Linked DNA regions of Homo sapiens: all the other regions are linked to region 3. The links come from fine-mapping of genetic effects on gene expression. A gene starts in region 3. Each other region holds a variant in brackets. All regions are shown on one strand. Distances are from middle to middle. Region 1 overlaps LOC101927281 (a long non-coding RNA gene). Region 2 has its middle 55 kb from the start of ALDH1A1. Region 3 holds the start of ALDH1A1 (aldehyde dehydrogenase 1 family member A1).

What was found. PIP is the estimated chance that this variant, and not a neighbour inherited with it, causes the effect.
Region 1: its variant is fine-mapped to the expression of ALDH1A1 in whole blood (INTERVAL, PIP 0.91).
Region 2: its variant is fine-mapped to the expression of ALDH1A1 in whole blood (INTERVAL, PIP 0.92).

Annotation. Positions count from the first base shown.
Region 1 is chr9:73,279,918-73,288,107 of GRCh38, reverse strand. The region is part of intron 1 of LOC101927281 (a long non-coding RNA gene); the gene reads right to left. Among named protein-coding and RNA genes, the nearest start is that of ANXA1, 130 kb to the right of the region's middle. The variant T/C (reference allele first, on the strand shown) is at 5,052.
Region 2 is chr9:73,003,716-73,011,905 of GRCh38, reverse strand. No RefSeq gene overlaps it. Among named protein-coding and RNA genes, the nearest start is that of ALDH1A1, 55 kb to the right of the region's middle. The variant T/G (reference allele first, on the strand shown) is at 3,808.
Region 3 is chr9:72,950,027-72,958,216 of GRCh38, reverse strand. ALDH1A1 (aldehyde dehydrogenase 1 family member A1) reads left to right here and starts at 5,164. Exons shown (of 13, transcript NM_000689.5): 1 at 5,164-5,282. The coding sequence starts at 5,217.

The DNA.
Region 1 (8,190 bases), 330 kb before region 3:
TCTACCCAATATCTCCTTTTTTTCTTTACCAATTACCCTAACCTACCTAACCACATATTTTTCCTTAAGTTAAAATGGAAAAATCCTGCTGACATCTTTAATGCACTATTTTTATTATTATACTTTCTTTTTCTAAATATTGTTAGGTTTTTACCTTATATTCCTAGACACCTCCCAATTTCAGTTGCTAGATTCTTGACTTTTGCACCAGGTATTTATTTGTTTGTTTATTTGTTTGCTTATTTTATTTGTTTATAGACAGGGTCTCATTCTGTCACCCAGGCTGGAGTGCAGTGGCATCCTTATGACTCACTGTAGCCTCAACCTCCTGGGCTCAAGTGATCCTCCCACATCAGCCTCACTAGTAGCTGAGACTACAGGTGCACACCACCACACCTGGCTGTGCACCAGATTTTAAAATATTGAAACACCCATGAGATCTCTTTTTCTGCCTTCTTCTCCACCTACAACTTTCTCCTAAGTTGTCTAATTCAGTCTCATGGTTTCAAATACTACACTTTGAGGACTTTGAAAATTTTATCTCTAATATCTCTCTTTGCTCCAGATTCATACCCATCTCCATATATCACCATATTCATTTTGCATTAATATCATTGAAAACACACTAAGCCAAACAGTATTTACTCTTCTCACCCACCTTGTGTACATTTATATACCACTGCTCTCAAGTCTTCTTCACTGCCATTGAGTCACCTCCCAACCAGTTACTCAACCAGTTATTCAAACTTAGAATCATCCTTGATTATTTTCTTCACACTCTACTTTTCTCCCACCCACCAATAATTCTGTCTCTTTTGTCTTTAAAACATAACGCTTCTCTGACTATATCTCATTATTTCAACCATAAACTCTTGCCCAAAATATAAAAACAAGTTTTCACCTGGTCATTCTCATTATGTTCAACACTCTGTCCATTCCAATGACATCCAGAGTTATTTTTTCCAAGTGCAATTTGGATCTTTTCATTCACCAGGACAAAGACAAGTCTATCCTTCCTATTGCAATTAAATTAAAATTCAAACTCCTCTCACACCTACCTTGCTTACTCTATTTCCCTACACATACCATCTGAGTTACCATGTCCTATCCAAAATGGCAATATTTCTTTCAACTTAGAAGCCAAACTCTTTCCCATATGTCATTATTTTCTCTTCATGTACAATTCTCTATAATTTCCTTTCATAGCTACGTATTTTTCATCATTCAGGTCTCAATTCAAATGTTACCACTTAGAGAGAGAGGCCCTCCCTGACCATCAACTTCTCCCTGTTCACTATCACATTTTCATATTTTGTTTTCTTCATTTAACTTATTAATGTGTTGCTTATCACATGCTTATTTGTTTACCTGTTTATTGCCTTGTTTTTTGTTGTTGTTGTTTTTGTTTTTCGAGACAGAGTCTTGCTCTGTCGCCCAGGCTGGAGTGCAGTGGTACGATCTCAGCTCACTGCAACCTCTGCCTCCTGGGTTCAAGCGATTCTCCTGCCTCAACTTCCCCAGTAGCTGGGACTACAGGCGTTCGCCACCACGCCCAGCTAATTTTTGTATTTTTAGTAGAGACGGGGTTTCACCATATTGGCCAGGATGGTCTTGAACTCCTGACCTCAGGTGATACACCCATCTCGGCCTTGCGAAGTGCTGGGATTACAGGCATGAGCCACCGCACCCAGCCCATTTTTGTATCTTCTATACCTAAAAGAATGTGTGTGATATAGGCAGTACTTTAGAAACTGTTTTTGATATCAACATTTTGTTAACTTTCTGTGAATAATGGTTTCAATTGAAATGTAAGAAAGCTATACTCAAAATAACAACTCTAACAAGAGTGACAACAACAACAACAAAATCCCCTCAATATTCAGACAAGAGAACATGTGGGGAAAGGTTTGAGCTTTTAAGTTAGAATTTTCCTCAATTGAAAACAAATGTAAAAGTAGAAAATGAAAAAACAAATAATATCTAGAAGGCTTATGTATTTTATAGGCATAGGGATCCATGGACAAAGAATTCAGTGTCTCTAATCTTCATCTCTTACCTTCCAGGCATTTAACAAACAGTGTTGTTGTATATATTTTTTGTCAGGTACTGTTCTAGTTGATGAAGTTAAACCGTAGATATAACAGACACAAACCCCTGTCTTTGTGGAACTTCCACTCTTCTTTTTTATTTTTATTTATTTATTTTTTTCAAGATGGGGAGTCTCACTCTGTTGCCCAGGCAGGTTGAAGTGCAGTGTCGCGGTCTCGGCTGCACTCCGTCTCCCAGGATCAAGCAATTCTCCTACCTCAACCTCCTGAGTATTTGGGACTGCAGGCACACACCCCCAGGCCCAGCTAATTTTTTTGTATTTTTTTGTTTGTTTGTTTTTGAGATGGAGTCTCGTTCTGTCACCCAGGCTGGAGTGCAATGGCGTGATCTTGGCTCACTGCAACCTTCACCTCTCGGGTTCAAGTGATGCTCCTGCCTCAGCCTCCTGAGTAGCTGGGACTATATGCGCTCACTACCAGGCCCAGCTAATTCTTGTATTTTTAGTACAGATGGGATTTCACCATGTTGGCCAGGATGGTCTCAATCCCCTGACCTCGTGATCCACCCGCCTAGGCCTCCCAAAGTTCACACTACTTTTGAATATTGTCTGTGGCTGACCAGAATTTAACTTCCTTGACATGAGAAACCTCATCTATTGTGTACACAGCTACATCTCCAGCAACTGGCACAAAATAAGTGCTCAATAAAATTTACTAAAGGTTAAATACACGTTGTTCCAACATGACAATAAAAGAAAGCATATAGACTGCCTAACACAGGGCTTGGTATATATTGTAAATTGACTACACATTGTGATTAAGCTGAATAATAGTGAAACACTCTGTACCGTGTCTTACCTCCTCATCAACTGAATGCAAAATACAACTGAATTTTTTGAGATACGCTATTTCTTTTGCCCTAAAATTATGTCAGTGTCATTAAAATACATTTCTACAACATAAATATGTGAAAATGCTGTTAAAAGATTTTCACAGCTTGCTCTCTAGCAGTATTACTACTGCCTACTTCTACCCACACCTGCCCAAATATCACAGCAGGCCACTTTTAATTAATGCCCAGGGTTAAATGTCAGGTGCAACATCTCACTAATCTGTTATTTAGAGCAGTTGAGACCATGGAACAAATGAACCTCTGCCTTTAGCAGCTCATAAGAAATGCATCCTATACCTCCCCAGAATGGGATGGCTTGGTTCTTTGCCCCCATAAACTGAACCTACTGAGTGACAAATCAGAACTGATGACTTCAAAGTTGGCTAAGTCACTGGCTTTATAGCAGCAAGCACCACAGTGCACATAAAAGAAAGAACTGTTCCCAGACATTACCTACAGTAAAATCCTCTCTGAGTTCTTTTCCGGAAAGAAAGAAAGAAGCAACAAAAAGGATTAACCTAGTTGCATAAAGAGCAGTAAAGGACTCTGGCAATGCAGTTCGCGCTCGTAGGTTCGCATCACCAGTGAACAGAAGGCTTGCTTTACCGCTCCCTCAGGAGCACGTCTCTCATTGAGTCCACATGCTGTGAGTCCAAGGCACTGTTTCTCTCGCTATATTTGGCTGACTGGTTATTTTACTTTCTTTTTGCTCTACTCATCTTATTTTGTATCCCCCTGTGAGGTGAAAACAATCCAGATAGAACTAGACTATCATACAGGACTCGTTACTTAATTTTCTGTTTCTGAATAATTCATAAAGAAAATCTTATCAACTTGCCTTTCCTGTGAGGTTGCCACACATCCAGTTTCCCTCCACACAGTGTCTTCCTTCTAAAAACAAGATAGCTCTGGGTTCTGATACTCCTCTTGAGGGAGGGATGAATGCCAGGCTTGAGGGCTTATTAACAGAAGACTCTACTTTATCCAGGCTGTTCTGCTCAGAGGCTTGCAAACATCCCACACTTACTTCTCCCTCTACTCTACTGCATACCATAACCGGGCTACCCTCCCCTGTCCCATCTGTCAAGTCCTACCAACTCCTTGAGCCTGCCTAGGCACTGTGGCCCACCAGATGCTCTCATTCTTATAGCTCTTACTGTGATTTGTCTAGCTCACTTATTTGTCTTAGTTTCATATTACCACACTGTATTTCTTACCTGCTTATTAGTTTTAAACTCTGCCTTAAGTATCCAAATAGGTATGTCCTCCATCATTATAATAACCTAGTGTATTAGTTAGGGTTCTCTAGAGAAATAGAACCAATGGGATCGATCTCTCTCTCTATCATCTCTCTCTCTCTCTATCTGTTCTTATCTATCTATCTATCTATCTATCTATCTATCTATCTGTCTATCTACCTATCTAGAGGAACAGAGAGAAACACTGAGAGAAAGAGTAACTTTTAAAAATTGGCTCACATGACTTTGAAGACTTGGTAAATTCAAAACTTACAAAGTAGACTGGCAGGCTACAGACCACGGGAAACTCACTGTTTGAGTTCAGAGGCAGTCTCCTGGCATAAGTCTTTCTTGATGAGTGGAGGATGGTCTTTGTTCTATTAAGTCCTTCACCTGATGGAAGGAGGTGCAGCCACATTATGGAAGGTAATCTGCTTTACTCAAAGCCCATCAACTTAAATGTTAATCCCATCCAAGAAAACACCTTCATAGAAACATCTACAAGCATGTTTGACCAAACATCTGGGCACCATACAAAGCCAACTGGACCCATTAAATTAACCATCATTCATAGCAAATCTATTGTGTATAATAAGTTCTCAATGTATTGAATATATATACATATGAAGAAATGACCATTTGGGATTAATAAGCCAAATTCCTACAGGGTTGGTTACCAACCCATTTTTCTAGTCTCATAATCCACCATACTCTTCCTCACTTTCTCCTCCCCAATCACTGTGTATGCCTTGCTTCTTCCTGTGATGAGACTTTTGCATGGACTGTACCCATTGTACAGCTGCTCTTTCCTTCACTTTTTACCTAACTTATATTCACTCTTCATTTATTCATTGATTTTGCAAGGAAACATTA[T/C]CAGACTCTCCAGACGAATTTAGTTTCCTGAATCATATGTTCTCATAGTTACAGACTACAATATACCTCTCTTTCATGACTTTTAAGAAAGTAGTTTCATATTATTTGTTACACATTACTTGATTAATATCTGTCTTTTACACTTGACATTAAATTTTATGAAAACAGAGAGTATGTCCATTTTTGCCCACGTTTTGTCCAGATTCTAACAGTTTCTGGTGCATAGGAAGTAATCAATACATTTTTGTTAACTTCTGGCTAAATGAATTATTAGCCAGTGAGATTAATTTTGCTTCTCTTATAGAATGCTTCTAAAAAGGCAATTAGAAGCTACACAGTGTTAAAACAACCAGAACAAAACATGAGCAAAGTCAAGCTATAATTAATTCTCTATGCAAAAGGTTAAACAATCAGTATGTTATCTGCCTGAACTGCCTGGCTACATTGCTACAAGTACAGTTTCAGAATCCTAACACCTTCCAATATCAGATATAGACAACGCTTCAGTATCACCTTCCATTAATTAACAAACATGGAGATTATGCTATTTTGAGAGAGAGGGAGATTTCTTAAATTCAATGTTATTGACCACAAACCTAGAGTCTTCCAGAGATCTGTTGCTCACTGATATATAACTGATTAGTAATGTATGAGTAAATATTTTAGACTGAAAATAAGTATCTCTTTTAAGGTTAGAAAATCTGATTATAATCCTACTCAATTTTAAAATTCTCTTTGAGTACTTGAAATTGTAGAAATTAGCCCTAGAAACGTTTGAGTTACATAAAAATTTTACATCAGTTTCAACCTGTCAGTATCTTTTTTTAATTTTTTTTTTTTGCCCCTTATCAGGATTGTTGACTTTCTCTAAATTTTGCCTCCTTAAGAGTTGAGAATGCTTAGATTTGCCCACTCCAAACATACTAGTTGTTATAATTTCACATAAAAGGTAAAGTAGAATAATTAAAATATTTCAGTGTTTCACTCTAATATTTGTATAATCCCTCCTGTCTCAATGTTTTGTTCTTTTACCCAGGTTTTACTTCAGGTATCTGTTTTACTGCTATAGTTAATCTGATCACTTATTTTTGTATGTCTTTATTTCTTCATTTGTAAAGTGAAAATGATAAAAATGTCATAACCCACAAGACTATTTTGAAAATCAAGTAAAACACTGTACCTATACATCTCTTAACTGAAAAGTACATGGTAAATCACAGTGTGATTATTATATATTAAAATATTTAAATAATCCATTTGATATATGATTGTCCAACCTAATAACTATCAATAAGCCTAAATATAAACAAAATTTAAAATTGTTATGCCTAAAGTATCAGGCTAATTATCATCACATAACCCTTCTCCTTTAAATTCTTCTTCATCTTAAATATGGACTGTTTTACCTCAATGAATATTTCTTAAAAACAAATTAATGTATAGCTGATCAATAATAGAAAATTAAGTCAGAATAACAACAGGTTGACCTAATCCATATGCAACATTCCCAAGCATGTTAATATTTTGCCCCAATTAATAACTTCAGCTGAAAACAAACTATACTAACACACCAAAAAATAGGGAGCCAGGCTGAAGGAACACAGTACAAAGTAGACACCCTGCCATCAGTCAGTTTAGCCAAATAAACAGACAGTGAAGACTTTAAGTGGGTTTTCACCATTGCATAGATATTGCTAAGCAGAAAATTTCTTCATGCACTTCTGAAATCTAATGCCCTTGTGTCTCATCTAAGAGTTAGTCAATTTTTTAACTTATATTTTATTCTATTTAAACAACCCATTCAACAAACCCTACTAGTCATTCTGCAAACTTAGTGCTAATAGCCATGCAGTTGAGTACCAAAAGCCTAGTCTTTAGAAGTAGGTAGACTTGAGTGCAAACTTTGGTTCCACCCACTCACCAGCTGACCAATCTTGGGTGAATCTCTAACTTTTAGATGCCGCCGCCATTTGTTCACCTATGAAATTGAGTTAATAACATTATCTTCCCTTGGTTCACTGTGAGAATTAAATGACATGAGTTTTGTAAAACACGATGGAACCTAAGTACTGCAGTTTAAATTATTGTTGAGACAGAGTCAATATTAACAGCGTGTGTAGTTACTTTGCTGTTAGTAAGTTGATACCCAGTTTCTAGTCTGACTTTTTCTATGTAACATAAAGTATTGGTACATTTTAGGTCATGAAAATAAATGTCCCACCTCTGTGTGAACAAAATTCAATGGATTGATTTTCATTCTATTTTGCCCAGTGTTAAATAAAATTTTGACCTCAATTATTTGCATATCATCTGCATATTCTAATCGAAAGTATTGCATGATCTGGATTGCCATCCTAGATAATTATCTCAGCTCTTTGCTTCACATTTGTGTTTAGCCTTAACATCTCAACCTTCCTTGCCACATTTATGTCGTTAATTGTGATTATGTTCAACTATGTATTACTGATATTAAAAGCACCAAACAGCAGATATCATTATCTTCAAGGAGATCCCAAAGCTTCTCCCAACCTGATGCTTAAATCTAAACCACTCAGCATGTTTGGCAAAATACTCACAACACAGCTATCTGTTTTTGGAATAAGTGCCCCTCTCCATTCTACTTAATTGAAAACAACTCTAAATTGCCCTCCTGAGCATAAAGAACCAGGGATTAAGACATAGTAGCGGAAAAGTATCAGGGTTTTAAAGACTTATATAAACAACACAGTTGTTTGAGCGGGTGACAAATAAATTCAAGCTCCCCAGGACACACTTGTTTAGGATTTTCCCAATTAGGCATTTTATTTGATCTTCGGGTCTGGGTGAGCCACAATTCTCTAGAATTGAAGAGGAGATTAATGGACCAGAGACAATGGCTAATTCATCTCCAGGGCTTTGTTCATTGCTTGTCTTTGCTAATTTAATACTGTTATTTCCAAACTTAAATAAATCAAAATGAGAATTGGGCTAGGGCAGTGCATCTCAACAAGCTATGCAATCACAGGATTATCCTCCAACACCCTTACTTTTACACTAGGTATCTTGACTTGAAAATAATGCTCCCCTTTTGGAGGTGTAAACAGTGGAGAAATAACATTTTGCATATTATCTCGATTAAGTCTGCTCATTGGTGGCAGGG
Region 2 (8,190 bases), 54 kb before region 3:
CTTTCTCATCCTCTTCTTGCTCTTCAGTCTGATATGGTGATCCAGATGGGACACCCACTTCCCAGTTAGTTGATTCTAGCCATGGGCTTCCATCCTCTGAATAAGGGCATGGGTTTCTAGTCTCTGCATATGGAGGGGATCCTCTCATTTCAATGTGTGGACCTTCATAGGATGGAGTAGGATACGTTTTATCTCCTTCACTGTGTCTGATTTGGGGACCACTGAGTTGAGGTGTAAGTGTTTGCATTGCAAAAGAAAGGCAAAATAGCCTGAAGATAATTTCATCCTCATGAGAGACTTTTTGGGCTCCCTACAAATTCTTCCTGAAATAGCTGATGCTGACTCACTTGCTCTGGGAACACATTTATTGTGTCCAAATTTTTCATGGCACGTGATTATGAGATCTTAGATTAGTAATGTTGCTTGGCAACACAACAGCATCCCTAGACTTTTTCAATTTGACTTACCTAAATTCAAGTTTCAAACTTGCAGAAAGAGCACAGATGGCTTTAAGATTTAGCATTTTATATTTATAAGAAAGAATATATGTGTGTATATATATATTTGATTCAAATTTATGCTCCAGCATAAGAAATTCCAAGTTTTTCTGCTAAGCAATTCCATTTATATCTATGTTGAATGTCCTTGCCATTTCCTCCAGTCTACATCCCAGCTGTTCTCATCACTACCCACATTCAAAAACTCTCTCTTCATATGCATTTTTAGTTATAATTTCTTCTCCAGAAAGGAATGTGCAATAATCCGAGTAATGTCTTCATATTCACACCATAACATGATAAAAGAAGGAAGGAATAAAGGAAAGAAGGAAGGGAGGGAGGAGAAAGACAAGAAGGAAGGGAGGGAAACAGACAGGAAGGGAGAGAGAAAGAGGAAGTTTGCATCCAAACTTTTATTCAAGAAATTGATTTTTTTAATGTGGCCAATACTTCTCTTAAAATAATTTATATAGAGAGTAAATATGTCTAAGATTCAAACACAATATAATAAGGGTAGAGTGGACATTTCTTCACAATTTGGCATAACAATAACTGCAAACAATTTTCAACAAAAGTATTTAGCACAGTATTATTTATTAATGCAAGTTATTGAAAACATTTAAAACATTTCAAATGTGTCAGTGTATGTATAACAAGGGCAGTAGAAGCAAAATTTATAAATACTGTGATCATGAATAATTTTATTTTATTCTTTTTTATAAATTTTCCACAATAAATACACACAACTTCTGTAATATTAAAAATAAGCCAGTTTAAGATTCTTTTATAAATGTTGTGCAGTAGAGTAAATCGATGATTAGTTTCATTCTGTGCTGATTATTAAGCTACTCCGTGTCATGTCCTATCTTACCCTTCTGGCTTAGTTTTCTGATACTGAGGTTGCAACTCTGCAAATAATCTTACCCCCTCCTAGCTGCTTTCCTGTTAAAGCCTACCAATGAAGGAGCTAACGGAAATTTAAAGGCAGAAATAAGAGAAGGAACATGGTCTTCCTATTTGCTTGTTGTTTCTGTAGGTTTTGTCCCAGCAGTGCCCCGGCTTCCTTCAGCACTCCCAGAGCAAGCCTTCCCATACCCCATTGGTAGTACTAGCATGAAGCAGGCAAGTACCCTTTCTTCAGAGATCTGATTCCCAGCTACCATTTCCATTTATTGAGTCACATCTAAAACTGCCAAATTTGAGTGGAGACCAGAGCAAGCGAAGGCTCTGCAGCAAGTCCAGACTGTAGTGTGAGCTACACTTCCCCTTGAAGATCAGCAGCTGTTCCTAAGATCTTAAGTGTCTGTGGTATACAGAGGCACCACATGGAGTCTCTGGCAAGCCCTGATAGGAGGATTACAATGCAGACCTCTAGGGGGGTTTGGGAGCAAATCTATGTCTTCAACATATTTGCTTCTTTTTTTGAGAAACAGTTACTGGAATGCTTTTGATCTTTGTAGAGCCTGAAAGCTTGACCAAGGAACATCAAAATAACTGTGCAATCTGAACTGCCCCTCATAAACTGGGTGTTATATGGTCCACCAAGCCATAAGTTTAGCAAGCAATTAATCATCAAGTGGACATGCTTTTAAGAGATGTACATGAGAAGGTGGTTCAATGCCTCAATTTGTCCTTCACGTCCTTTGAGACCTACTCCATCTTCATTGTCTTCTCTCACTCAATCCAAGGGAATTCCTTATAACTGAGAAAGAAAACCTTGAACTTAGTTTACAGATGGTTAGATCCCAAGGGAGGAATGTACACATAGACACCAAAAACTCCATTAAACTGGAAGTTAAAACTGTAGCCTGGACACCTGGGGCTCATGCCATTGAGCCAACACTTGAAGGAGGTTGTTGTATGGAGAAGAGCAATTGATGTTCATTACCAAAGGGAACCTGAGCAGCTTCCAAACAGTGAGGGAGGCAGAGAGCACAATGACTGGATTCTCTGAGCACCTATTAACACTTTATGTCCAGGCCAGGCACAGTGACTCACACCTGTAATCCCAGCACTTTGGGAGGCCAAGGTGAGTGTATCACTTGAGCTCAGGAGTTCAAGACCAGTCTTAACAACATGGCGAAACCCTGCTTCTACCAAAAACAAAACAACAACAACAACAAAAACACAAAACTTAGCTGGGCATAGTGGCATGCACCTGTAGTCCCAACTACTCGAGGCTGAGGTGAGAGGATTGCTTGAGCCCTGGAGGTCGAGGCTGCAGTGAGCCAAGATCATGCCACTGCACTTAGAATACTAAGCAACTACACAAAGGCCCATTACTGAGGATTCACATCCTTCAGAAACAAAAATTCAGATAAGCCCACTAGTACAGAAATCTAGTTAGCTGAGGACAAGGGGGACATGGAATAGACATGAAAAGACAAAAGTTAGAAACGTTAACCATGCTCTCGTGATTAGTTTCAGAAATGAGGACAAGAGCAGTGATATAAGCTTTCTTCCTTTCTTGTTACTTATAGGTATATTCATAGTAATGCATATTAGCTAATTTATATTTATTTTCTTTCTCTTTTTCTCTCCTTATTTTACATAGAGCTTATTGGATCATGGTGTTTTACACTTCAGACTTTATATTACCAATTTCCAGGTGGGACTGTGACAGAATTTGAGGAGCAATCAACATCAGTCAGAAATTGATACCGTGACTCTTTCTGGAAATTGTTACTATGGTTGGGACTTCATGGCTTTCTCTTTTAGAGAGAGGAGAGAGCAAAGGATGGATAGTTCCTTCATCTTTCTAGACAATAGCATAGCTTTTGCTTTATGGAAATTCAAAAATTCATAGAAAGGTGTATAGATGTAGAATGGTCAAAGGGGTAGACTATGCCAGTTTATTAAACTAGCTTTTCTCAGTTCCAAACTCTTCATTCTATGCTCAGCGGAGACTCTGCTATCTACTTTTCTCCCTTGCCAGATTGTGTCTTTCTAGGTTCTGTTAGTAGAATGCACTGGCGGGAGAACGGAAGGCAGAAGGGAAGAAAGCAGACTCCACCCTACTTGCTTACTGTTCCTTCAGCATTTCCCTACTCAGATCCTTTTCCCTAGCAGCAGCAAAAACATCTTAAAAGACAACAGAGTAAGACAAGCAGATTCTTCCCCTGAGCTGTGTGGATCTCAGCTCTTGGGACCCCCTCCCAGCATCTGGGCTCTGATAACCCATCCCAACACCTTCTTGTTTCCCTCAGCCTACTGGCAAAGCTACTTCCTGCAGTTAATTTCTCTGTTCCCTTCATGTTCCTTTTTTACTACTTTAGCTATTCATCATACTAACTTCTTTCTGTTATAATTA[T/G]TGTGGTTTCTGATTTCCTGACTGATATGAGTACTTATTACAAGGGCCAGATACTGTATTTTACATATATTGTTTTACTTAATCTTCACAAACCCTGTGAGGTCTTGTGTGTGTGTGTGTGTATTCCAGTATATTGGATATATAATATTCAATCATATATATATATATATAAAATTCAGTGTATTGAGGCTGATAAAATTGAATTTAAACTTTTTTCTTTTAACATACCCATCTTCATAAAGGAATGTTAAAACTTGGATTTGAACACACATTAGATTGACCCAAAAGCCTACCAACTAAATAAACCCAAAAGCAACCAAATAAACAAATGTGGTATAGCCATACAAGGAAATATAATTCAGCAACAAAAAAGTGAAGAATTTATACATGCTAAAAAATGGACGAATCTTGAAATTATCATGTGGAAGAAACCAAACACAAAAAGTAACATGTTGTATGATTTCCTTTATATATGAAATGTTCCGAATAGGCAAGTATACAGACACAGAAAATTGATTAGTGTTTGTCAGGGGCTTAAAGTGATTAACTCCTTAGTTTTCACTCCAGGAAAATGGTTATTTTACATTTGTTAACCAGCTTCAAATCAATTCAGAGAATGGTCCTGGAGTTTTGTGAGTAAACCACTATTTTACGTATAGTGCTTGTATTTTCCTCAAAATGCTGCCACACAGAGAGCACTGTAATTTTCCATGCTATTGCTATGTTGATCTCAGACCTTGAAAAGTAGCTTTGATCCAGGACTGAAAAGAAGAGAAAGTGGTGCATTTCACGCAAAAGGAATTATGGATGGCTAACAACATTAATAAGATGCTCAACTTCACTAACAGAATGTAAACAAATGAATGTAACAATAGAATATCACCACACACACACTCAGACAGGCAAACATGAGCATGGTAACAAGAGAGGAAGGAAACTCTCATCTATCACTGGTGGAAGTACAAACAGATATAGCCTTTTAGAAAAACATTCTGGTGCTATGTGTTAAAATTAATAATCCACATAGCCTCGTATTCAGTAACCCCACTCTTAGTTTTCTATACCATAAAAATAAAAGTTTCAATGCATAAGGATATAGTGACAAAGAGATATTTGACAATTTTGGAAACAAATTAAAGGTCTACACAATGAGGCATAATTTAATATACTGGGGTAATTTCATACATTATTACCTAGTCATTAAAAAGAATGACCCAGATCTATATATATTTCCCTGGAAATATGTTCTTGATAAACACCAAAGGAAAAAAGCAAGTACGGAGAAATAAATACAATATTCTATTTATGTAAAACAAAGTGGCAAAATGTGTTTCATATGTACCACGCATATTTGTATGTATGTGTATATGAATCTAAAATAATGGAGAAAGTTACAGAAACACATATACCAGATAGTTAACTTTTGGTTGCATAATCGGTGAGTGGGGGACCAGGTGGGGAGGGTAGGATGGAGTACAGGGAGAAGATATGTCAGTTCACAAAAAACAACTGTATTTATTAAATATGTGTCCCAGTATGTAAGATATTTTTCCATTTATGCTGTTTTATACATAAGTGTGATATTACATAAAAATACATAAATGAATTTAACCAAAATACTACAAATCAGTATATGTAAGAGTAGCAGGATTTCGAAGGACTTTTTTCATCCTTCCCTATAATTTGGTGTATTCTTTGAAGTTTTACAAAGATTATGCATTGTTTATATAATCATACAATCAATGGAGTGTGGGCCTCCCCCTATGACTTAGTACCCCTGCATTTTTTAGCTCTCAGACTTGTTCGCATTGAGACTCCAACAATTTGTTAATTACAACTTAGATTTTCCTAGCCTGGAATTGATTCCCATGCAGGTTTCTGGTACAGTAAGTTGTAATTCTCTATATCTGCCTGTCTCTAAAATTTTGGAGTAGCAGTTTTTCCTATGACCTCACCTCTCTAATGGATTTGGAAGAGTTGATTTTTAAGTTTGTCCAGCTTGTTACTTGTTGTTACAATAAAGTAGTAACAACATGCTACTGCTATGTTGATCTCCGACCTTGAAAAGAAAAGTAGCTTTGATCCTGGACTGAAAAGAAGAGGAGGTGGTGCATTTCACAGAAGAGGAATTATGGATGGCTAACAACATTAATAAGATGCTCAACTTCACTAACAGAATGTAAACAAATGAATGTAACAATAGAATATTACCACACACACACTCAGACAGGCAAACATGAGCATGGTAAGCTCCTTGCATGCTGAACCAGAAACCAGAAGTCTGAGCAGGTAGATTTTCCAATGGGTTTATTATTGGCAATGAATATTTAATTGATCACATTATATTTTCAGCTCTATGAAAATTAGAAAATAAGAGAAGATACTTACTATATGAATATACTATAATAAACTGAAGGTTATAAGGCACTTTCTCTAAATCCCATAATAAACATTTGTCTTTTTGTATTATTATTTTATTTTATTCTATTTTTGAGATGGAATCTTGCTCTGTCACCCAGGCTGGAGTGGAGTGGTGCCATCTCTGCTCACTCCAACCTCCGCCTCCCAGGTTCAAACGATTCTCCTGCCTCAGCCTCCTGAGTAGCTGGGACTACAGGTGCACGCCACCACTCCTGGCTAATTTTTGTAATTTTAGTAGAGACGGGTTTCACCATATTTGGTCAGGCTGGTCTCGAACTCCTGACCTCAGGTGATCCACCCACCTTGGCCTCCTAAAGTGCTGGGATTACAGGCATAAGCCACCGCACCCAGCTGGAATTTTATCTTTATGTGGTATTTAGAACATATATTTAGAATACATAAAGCAGTAAGAAGAACGTTTATTTTTCCTTTTGAAACACACAATTTGCTAGATCCTTTAGACTTTTAACAAAAGTGATTTAATTTGACTTGCAATAAGTTTCAGAATGCAATTTATATACATTATTTTGCTTATAACAGAATATCTAAAATTGGGTAATTTATAAAGAAAGGGAATTTCTTTCTTATAGAAAAAAAAAAGCTTTCCTATTCTTAAATTATTGAATAGTTAACAATTTGCTCAGGGATTGCATCTGGTGAGACCATTCTTTTTAGTGGGGACACTGCAGCACCCTGAGGTAGTTCAGAACATCATGTGGTGAGGGGGCTAAGCATGCCAACATGCTAGCACAGGTCTCTCTTCCTGTTCTTATAAAGCCAACAGTTACCCTCCGAGGACAAACCATTAATCCATTAACTCATTAATGCATTAATCCATGAGTGGATTAATGCACTCATGATCCAATCACCTCTTAAAGGTCCCACCTTTCAATACTGCCACATTGGGGATTATGTTTCAACATGAGTTTTGGAGGGAACATTCAAAATAGGGCAGAGACTTAATAGAAACAATGTACAACCGGCCGGGCGCGGTGGCTCACGCCTGTAATCCCAGCACTTTGGGAGGCCGAGGCAGGCGGATCACGAGGTCAGGAGATCGAGACCATCCTGGCTAACACGGTGAAACCCCGTCTCTACAAAAAATACAAAAAATTAGCCAGGCGTGGTGGCGGGCGCCTGTAGTCCCAGCTACTCGGGAGGCTGAAGCAGGAGAATGGTGTGAACCCGGGAGGCGGAGCTTGCAGTGAGCCAAGATGGCACCACTGCACTCCAGCCTGGGCGACAGAACCAGACTCTGTCTCAAAAAAAAAAAAAAAGAAAGAAACAATGAACAAGCTTCAAAAACAGATAGATAATGTAAGCAGAAAGATGCAAATTCTAAGAAAGCATCAAAAAGATATGCCTTAGATCAAGAACAATGAAACAAATGAATTCCTTTGATGGGCTTATTAGTAGATTGGACACAGCTGAAGAAAGAATCACTGAGCTTCTGGATATAACAATAGAAACTTCCAAACTGAAAAGCAAACAGAAGAAAGATTGAAAAACACAGAACAGAATATCGAAGAACTGTGGGACAGTTCAGAAGGTATAACATATACATAATGGAAAAAAACTGAAAGAAGAAAAAATATTTGAAACAATAATGACTGAAAATTTCCCCAAATTAATCTCAGACACCAAACCAAACCAAAGATCTAGGAAACTCGGGGAATAACGAGCAGAATAAATTCCCAAAACCCTACACCTAGATATACCATATTCAAACAACAAAATCAAAGGCAAGGGAAAAATCTTGAAAGAAGCCAGATGGAAAGAACACCTTACCTATAGAGGAACAAAGAGAATTACATTTGACTAAGTCAACTCTTTAAGCACTGGAAAGGGGCTCAGAGCTATTTGGACAGGGAATTCAGGCTTCTGCTACCCAGATCGTGGTCTAGGAGGGAAAAACATTTTCCTTAGTCCCAAGGACAACTTGCCCCTTGACTTACTAATGCA
Region 3 (8,190 bases):
GGGGGAACTGGGGCAGAATAATATATTTTGGATGTTTTTCCCCCACAAATCTTATGTTGAAATGTAATCTCCAGTGCTGAAGGTGGGGTCTAGTGGGAGGTGTTTGTGTCATGCAGGTGGATCTCTCATGAATGACTTGGTGCTCTCCCCACGGTAATAAATTTACAGGAGAGCTGGTTATAAGAAGAGCCTGACACATTTCCCCCTCTCTCTTGCTCCCTCTCTCTCCATGTGACATATATGCTCCCCCTTTGCCTTCTGCCATGAGTAAAAGCTTCCGGAGGCTTCACCAGAAGCTGAGCAGATGCTGGTGCCATGCTTGTACAGCCTACAGAAACATGAGCCAAATAAACCTCTTTCTCATCTTTACTCTCTCTATATATACACATACATATATATACATAAATATATATGTATATAAAATATATAAAACACCTGATGAGTTTTTCATTGTAAGGTACAGATAGAAAGCTTACCTTTATTTAAATTAGAATATTTAGATAGTAACAATAAACCTGAATGACACAAAGAATGACGGGTGCATGATCAATGACAACATATACATTTTGACACCTATGAACTTGAACTTTTATTGATTAGTGCATTAGTTTCCAATGGCTGCTGTAACAGTTATAAACTTGGCGGTTTAAAACAACACTTTTAGAAGCCAGAGATCTGAAATCAGTTTCACTGGCCAATATCAAAGGAGTGGACAGGTCAGGCTCTCTCCAGAGATTCTAGGAAAGAATCCATTGTCTTATGTTTTCCAGTTTATAGAGCTTTATTCTTTAATTATTTGTCTTCTGGTCCCCTTCAATAGCTTCAAAATATTGATTCATTGCCAGGGCAGGGGTGGTAAGAAAAGTTGTTTATATGAAAATTAAACTGAATATATTACAAACAATATCATCAAATTTCTAAACACATTGTTGGATAATCTGCATGAGAATTATAAAAAAAAAAAAAAGAAAAAATTGTGGAAATCTCAAAGTAGTCTACATTTTGATTGACTCATTGATGTCTTTCATGTCTTTCTTTCTACACATTAAGGAAGCAAACTGGAAACTAGACAAAACACTATGAGTACTATTTATGCAAGATTATTTCAAATTCCAAGCAGCAAATCCAGTTCCAAGAAATGGCCTCAACCCATAAGGTTTAGCAAAAACCTATTTAAACTCAAATAATTATCTTACAGAGGCTTTAATGTACTGTTTCTTTTAGTGACCTTACTAATCAGTTAGTGTCCTGGTTAGACCAGATTAGAGGGGCATCTATCCTATCTCAGTAACACAAGCCAAAGAGAAGAACAATGAAAAGATATGTAAAGAGCAGGAGAAATCAGAGGTGAGGAAATTTTTCCAATTGAAGAAGAATGGCATGTGAACAGAAATTAGTCAACAAATACATATGTTCATATACTTGAATTCTGCCTTCCACTTCCATTTTTAACATCAACTTGTCAACTAAGTACAGACTCTCTCACTACATACAAGATCCACTTTTCCCAAATTATTAAAACTCAAATAAGCATAAGAGCAATGTGGTATCTGATAAAAATGTAGTAATCAAAAGCATAGGGATAGATTTCTTGCTAGGTTTACCAACAGGCAGACATGCTAAGGCAACAGAGAATAGTTAGGGGAGTGGTCATGTAACTGGAGTAGGAGAGGTTCATCTTCAATAAATGGTTCCAGCATCTTGAAATCAGGAAATATGAAAAGAAACTGTCTTAGTTCATTCAGGCTGCTATAACAAAAATTAATTTCTCACAGTTCTGGAAGCTTGAAGTCTGAAATTAGGGTGCCAACATAGTTGGGTTCTGGTGAGAGCCCTCTTTTGGGTTACAGATTGCCAATGTCTCATTGCATCCACACATGGCAGAAACAGCGAGAGATCTCTCTGGAGTCCCTTTTATAAAAGCACTGATCCATTCATGAGGGTCCTACCCTCATAACCTCATTACCTCCTAATATGATTTGGCTCTGTGTTCCCACCCAAATCTCACCTTGAATTGTAGTTCCCATAATCCCCACATGTCATGGGAGGGATCCGGTGGGATGTACTTTAATCATGGAGGGGGGTTACCGTCATCCTGTTCTCATGATAATAAGTGAATTCTCATGAGATCTGATGGTTTTATAAGGGGGTTTTCCCCCTTTTGCTGAGCACTTCTCCTTGCTGCCACCATGTGAAGAAGGACGTGTTTGCTTCCCCTTCCACTGTGATTGTAAGTTTCCTAAGGCCTCCCCAGCCATGCTGAACTGTGAGTCAATTAAACCTCTTTCCTTTATAAATTACCCAGTCTCAAGTATGTCTTTATTAGTAGCATGGGAATGGACTAATACACCTCCCAAAGGCTCCATCTCCTAATACCATCACATGGGGGGTTAGGATTTCAACATATCCATTGTGACTGGACAAAAAAAATTCAGTCCATTGCAGAAGCTATTTTTAATTCATCATATGACTTTTTTCAACATTTTTTTAAAAATTTTAAGTCCTGGGTGGCAGATTAGGTTCCTTTTATCTTTTCAGGAACTGAGGATTGGACGGAGTTCTGGAGATGTTTGTTGTAAAATGAAAGAGTAGTTTCAAGAATGGTTGAAGTCATAATCTATATGTTTCTTGGTATAATGAAAGCTTTCACAAATGGCTGGAGAAGTCAAATTCAAGAGATGAATAAACTATCCTCTTATGTTTCTTGCTTCTCTCTCCATATGTGTGTGTGCCTGTGTGTGTGTGTGTGTGTGATTTAGTTTGTTCATAAGGAGGAAAAAGAAGATGAAACATCATTTGTCGATTACTCTCAAGTTAAAGGGACAGCTCCTCCTCTGCTGCATAGTCCTGGCATACCATAAAAACGTACAATCCTGGGTCCAGTTCTAAAATGTGCAACCTTGGTCCCTAGGTTCTCACAAAAGCCATTATTTCCTCTGTAAGGAATAGAAGTAGTCTGATGAAATCTTTTCCTCATATGCAGCAATTCCCAGAAATATGCTATTCTACAAAATAAGCTCTCAGGGCAGGATGATGTTTACCTCAAAAATATAGGTCTCAGGCCCTGTGGTTTCTAGGCAGAAAAGATCTGCTTAAGTGAGGTTAGGGCTAAAGAATTATGGATGCATAAATGATACTTAGTAAATATTTGCTGAAATTAAATGGGCAGGTGTGGTAACCTGTCTCCAAAGCAACTCCTTTTGCCTACATTCAGGAATGCCTGGTATAAAGGGACTGTTCTTACATAATTATCCAATAAAATACAATTGAGAATGATCATATAAGAAGTGAGATGACAAGCCAAGTATGTTATGAAGCCTTGAGCTTTCATCGCCTGGACATCAAATAAACCAGTATTTGAATCCACAAACAACTGTGACTCTGGGAGAAGAAAGCAGCAAAACACAGCTGTTTGGGCATGGCCAGAGCGCCACTCTCAAGTTATGTAACAGCTGTTGTGTAATTGTGCATTTAACTCAAAACACATTTTTGAGAGAGAAAACAATTAGACTTTCCAAAAAGAAAGAAACAGAGAAATGTTGAAAGAACACAGAAGTTTCTATCTGGTCATCAAACATAAGACACGGGGGAGTCAAAGGCATTGGGAATGATATTGCCTTAGAATCTAGGGAGTTGGCCCGTGCACCAAATCTGGCCTGCCTTCTGTCTTTTTAAATAAAGTTCTATAGGAAAACAACTACACCCATTAATTTACCTATCATCTACAGTTTCTTTTAAATAGAGTCAAGTAAATTATATCAGAAACCATCCAGCCCAGAGGCTGAAAATATTTACAGAAAAAGTTTTGCAAATTCTTGTCTTAGATGAATAAAAAGTTATGTTTAAATGCCTGTAAGGGTGACTATTCACTGAGAAAACCAAAGCAGTTGATGCTTGAACCCATGTAGGAGTTCTCTTGTGGAGAATAGGGTAGAAATAGTAAACAGAAATAAGAGTCCAGGTTTGGGAGTCAGACTGGCCTGAAATGAAATTCTGGTCCTGCACTAATAGATCTGTGACCATAAGTAAGCTACTCACCCTCTGTATGTCTCTAAAATGGGGATATGAAATGAGGGTAGAAAGGGAAACAAGTGCTGCACCTGATTTGGGCAAACAATTCAGAAATTTTTAGTTTCCCTATGTAAGTCCCATATTCAGGGGAATTGGCAAGTTTCACTAGAAAAAAAAAAATTGGTTGATTCTCCACAATCAGAGCATCCAGAGTATTTTATCTTGTTCCTATTGTAACGTTTGCTAGAGCTACAATACAATAAAGTATTGTACTTAAAATGGGAGTAACACTGTTTAAAAAATTGTCCTTCAGCTAAATATTAATTTAAGAACTTGAATTGTTTGGAAGCCCTGCTTAAATTTAGTCTTTGTACACTGCCTATGTTGATAAATACAGACAACTTCCAAAACCAGGATTACTTTCATTTTAAATGAGTATTAATAGATGATATTGCCATATTTCTAATTGTGGTGATTGTGTGTGACAGTGTGTTCCGAATTCCCTAAAAGTCCTGCTGGCTTTTCTGTTCACATATAGAAAATAAAGATAATTTAGGGCTTCTGAGATCACAGTAGGTCTACTTACCCAGCACTGAAAATACACAAGACTGATACGATATTTTAAAACTAACTTAGGGTAGGGTGTAGATAAAGGGCCTTTCTTCCCCAAACAGCACCTTGATTTTCTGGGAGATGGACTGATTTCCTGAAAGCCTTGTCCTGAAGACACCTGGCCAGCTTCTACTGAGAACAAGTGCCCTTTTAGACTCTTTTCAATCCTCAAATTCTCTGATTCCAAGTCTGTCAGAGAACAGAAAGTTACATAGTAGCATTAAAAAGCATGAGAAGTCAAAAAAATAATAACTGGCCTTAGTGGCCAGAGCAGCTGCTGCATACACTTATCACAGGTTTCGGCTTTGTAAATTAATTCATCTGCAAATAGTGCACTGTCTCCAGGTACAAATTCGATGCTGGAGCACTGGTTTCTTAAGGATTTAAGTTTAAAGTCAAAGGCTTCCTGCCCTAGGTGTTACAAATAAGTAGTGTCGTTTTCTTTTTTTGCTCTGAGTTTGTTCATCCAATCGTATCCGAGTATGCAAATAAACTTTAGCCCGTGCAGATAAAAAAGGAACAAATAAAGCCAAGTGCTCTATCAGAACCAAATTGCTGAGCCAGTCACCTGTGTTCCAGGAGCCGAATCAGAAATGTCATCCTCAGGCACGCCAGACTTACCTGTCCTACTCACCGATTTGAAGATTCAATATACTAAGGTGAGTAAAACTTCTATTTTCTGCTTTGACTCGGGTTTGCAAAAACTGCATTTATGTAAAGCATTAAAGGTCAATTTAAGTAAACTTGTGTAAAGAGCCCTTTGCAAATATAAAAATAAAAGGCATGCAAAATGCAGGTCTCAGTTTAGTGTCCTGATCAAATATGATCTAAATCATATCAGACAATCTTTCATAAATTTATTTCTTAAAATATTTCCAAGCGAAAGGAATTCTCTTCTGTGTGAAAGGATTCTTATACCAGGATTCAGAGGACTTTACTAAGCACTTCTATTAACTTCACTATAGCCGGCATGTATGATAAGAGAGCAAAATACTCACTAGAGAAGCTTACTGGAAAGAACCAAACGAGTAGGAACAATAGAAAGCAAACAAGGAGAAAGAGAGCATACTGAAATAACATAACTTTCCAATATGTTTAATAAAATGAGTGTTAAAATAGGGGGACTTAAGTCTGATAATTGGATTCGAAAATCTTCAGATGGACTTGCATTATTTTGCATATTTTGGTGGGAGGAAGAAAAGCATTATTTCTTCAGCCAAGTTTGTTGCCATTGGAGCAGATGTGTAATTGTTAACTGATAAATATTTAGAGAAACAAGAGCAGGAGCTAGATCCAGACTTTAAAATCCGCAGCTGGGGGGAACTAGGAAATGGATCCTGCTTGAGTCGTTCTGAGAGTAACTCTGAACTTTGCCTGTTTCACACTGCTTTCCTGTCAGATCCTAGAACTCCAAAACAAACAAATGAATAAAACACAATCTAACCAAAATTACTTGAAGTTATCTTTATGGTGTGATGCAGAAAGTATGGTAAGAAATTAACTCTTGCAAATCAAGAGAGAGCCATTTTGCTGTCTGAATTAGCCAACAGAAAAACAAAGGGCATTATAATTTAATGATAAAGTAAAAGTCCCCACTGTTATATATTTATTTCCTCACTTGTAACCATGGATGGCTTTGAAATCCCAAGGTCTGTTGCATTTTCATTTTCATAAAGCACAACAAATGAGGAAGTTGCTCAGCTGATTGGCTCTTTTCCTCAGGAAAGTAGCAGCAGAGATCAGATTGTGCCTTTAACATGGTTGACCAGCAGCTATGAAGTGTATTTTAAGGTATTGTTATCACGAGGTTTTGTTAAAGAGGAAAGATTTTTTCCATTTAGTTTTACTACAAATGGTAGCATGAAAAATGCAGTAAATCCATACCGTCAAACAATTTACATTTGGCAAAGGTATGTCCAAAAGGTTGCAAGAGTCCAGTCTCCCTCATTTTCTTATTCCAAGTTTGTCATTCACAAGAAATTTCAATTGAAAGTGGGTACATTTAAAAATACATTTCATGAAGCTCAAAATTGTCGACAATGCTCAGATTATTGTATTACTATTATTAATGGGATTTTTTTTTTAATAATACTACCTAGGAAGATATTTTGGTAGTCTGGATGCCCCTGTCTCCCCACTCCTTTGGCTTTGCAGAAGTTTGCAAAGTCTTCCTTGTGTGTGTATTTCAAGGAAGCTCTAATGTAAATAACCTTCCTGCTAAATTAAGCTTCACTTAGTAGTCATTAACTAAGCATGTAAGAAGCGGTACTAGACAAATGAGATGGTCCTAAAAATCTAACATACAAGCACAGACCTAATGAACCCTTAACACAGAGAGATGATTTTGAGATTGAAACCTATTCACTTCGAAGTCACTGTGCAACAACTCCCCTCTAGGGAAAGTGACTGACCTAAGTGTCCAAAAGAAGGCAAGACTCAAAGAGCAGGCGTTTTGCTCTGTGTTTAAGAACTTTTCTGGGTAAAAATACTCCAAACAAGTCAGTGAATTTTGATTTCTCGTGCATCTTCTATATAAATCTGTTCTGCTCAGATAGCATTTTATTGTTTAATTTATTGGTTACAGCGTTTTCACACTTGGGAGGACGCCAGTTATGTATGTAATTAAATCTAAATGGGTGAACTTTTTCAAATGCCTTCGCATTTTTTGTTTACTATGTCCCAGTGAAGAATTGGATTGAATTTGCTCTTGCAAGAGGAGTTAAAAAAAAAAATGATGGTTATTAACTATAAAAAGTTCCCTGGTTACAAACCAAGTAAGCAAGGAGTTTATAGTGTCTGAGGAATTATCTTCTATTACCAGCCCCTAAAGTCTTGTGTTATTTTTCTGTTACTATTCTAATGTCCTTTTTTATTATTATTATAGCTAGAAGTATATTGGTTGTTAGGACAAGTTGGAGAGAACAGACAGGGTTGAGTAAAAAAAAAAATATTACAACTACGATAGAAAAGCTACATACTCTCAAGCTTGGGACTGCTTTTCACCCAAACAAAAGAATTTATTGATGCATATGTTTTTATGACTTATTTTCTAGTACAGTCTGATTATTTCTTTGTTGGGGTAGATTAAAGAGAGATCAGAGTTTAAGAAATGCTTTCTAAAATTATACAAAAGCTTTTGGAATTTAAAACCTCAAAAACATCGCTATAAATTCACTAATATGAACTCATATCCCATCCTTATCCTCATTACTCCTCTTTCCAACTCTAAATGAACCCCACATTTTCCATTTTATTGAGCCTTTAAATGAAGAGATTCTTTGAAAGTTATGTGATCATTGGGCAAGCTACATTACTTCTCTCTGCCTCGGTTTTCTTATGTTTAAAATGGGGATGATAAAGGCACGTATTTTCTAAGGTCGATGAAAGTATTAAACGAACTTAATGCGTACAAAGCCCTTGAAATAATGCCTGGACATGGGAAATGATTTAACGTTAGTGATCCTAGTCCTATTTTTCTGAATCCTTTCCAGTTTTTCCAGAATATTCCCTTTTACCCAACCTTTCCTAGACCTGTTTCCTACAAGTATGCCTCACGTCTTCTCCTAG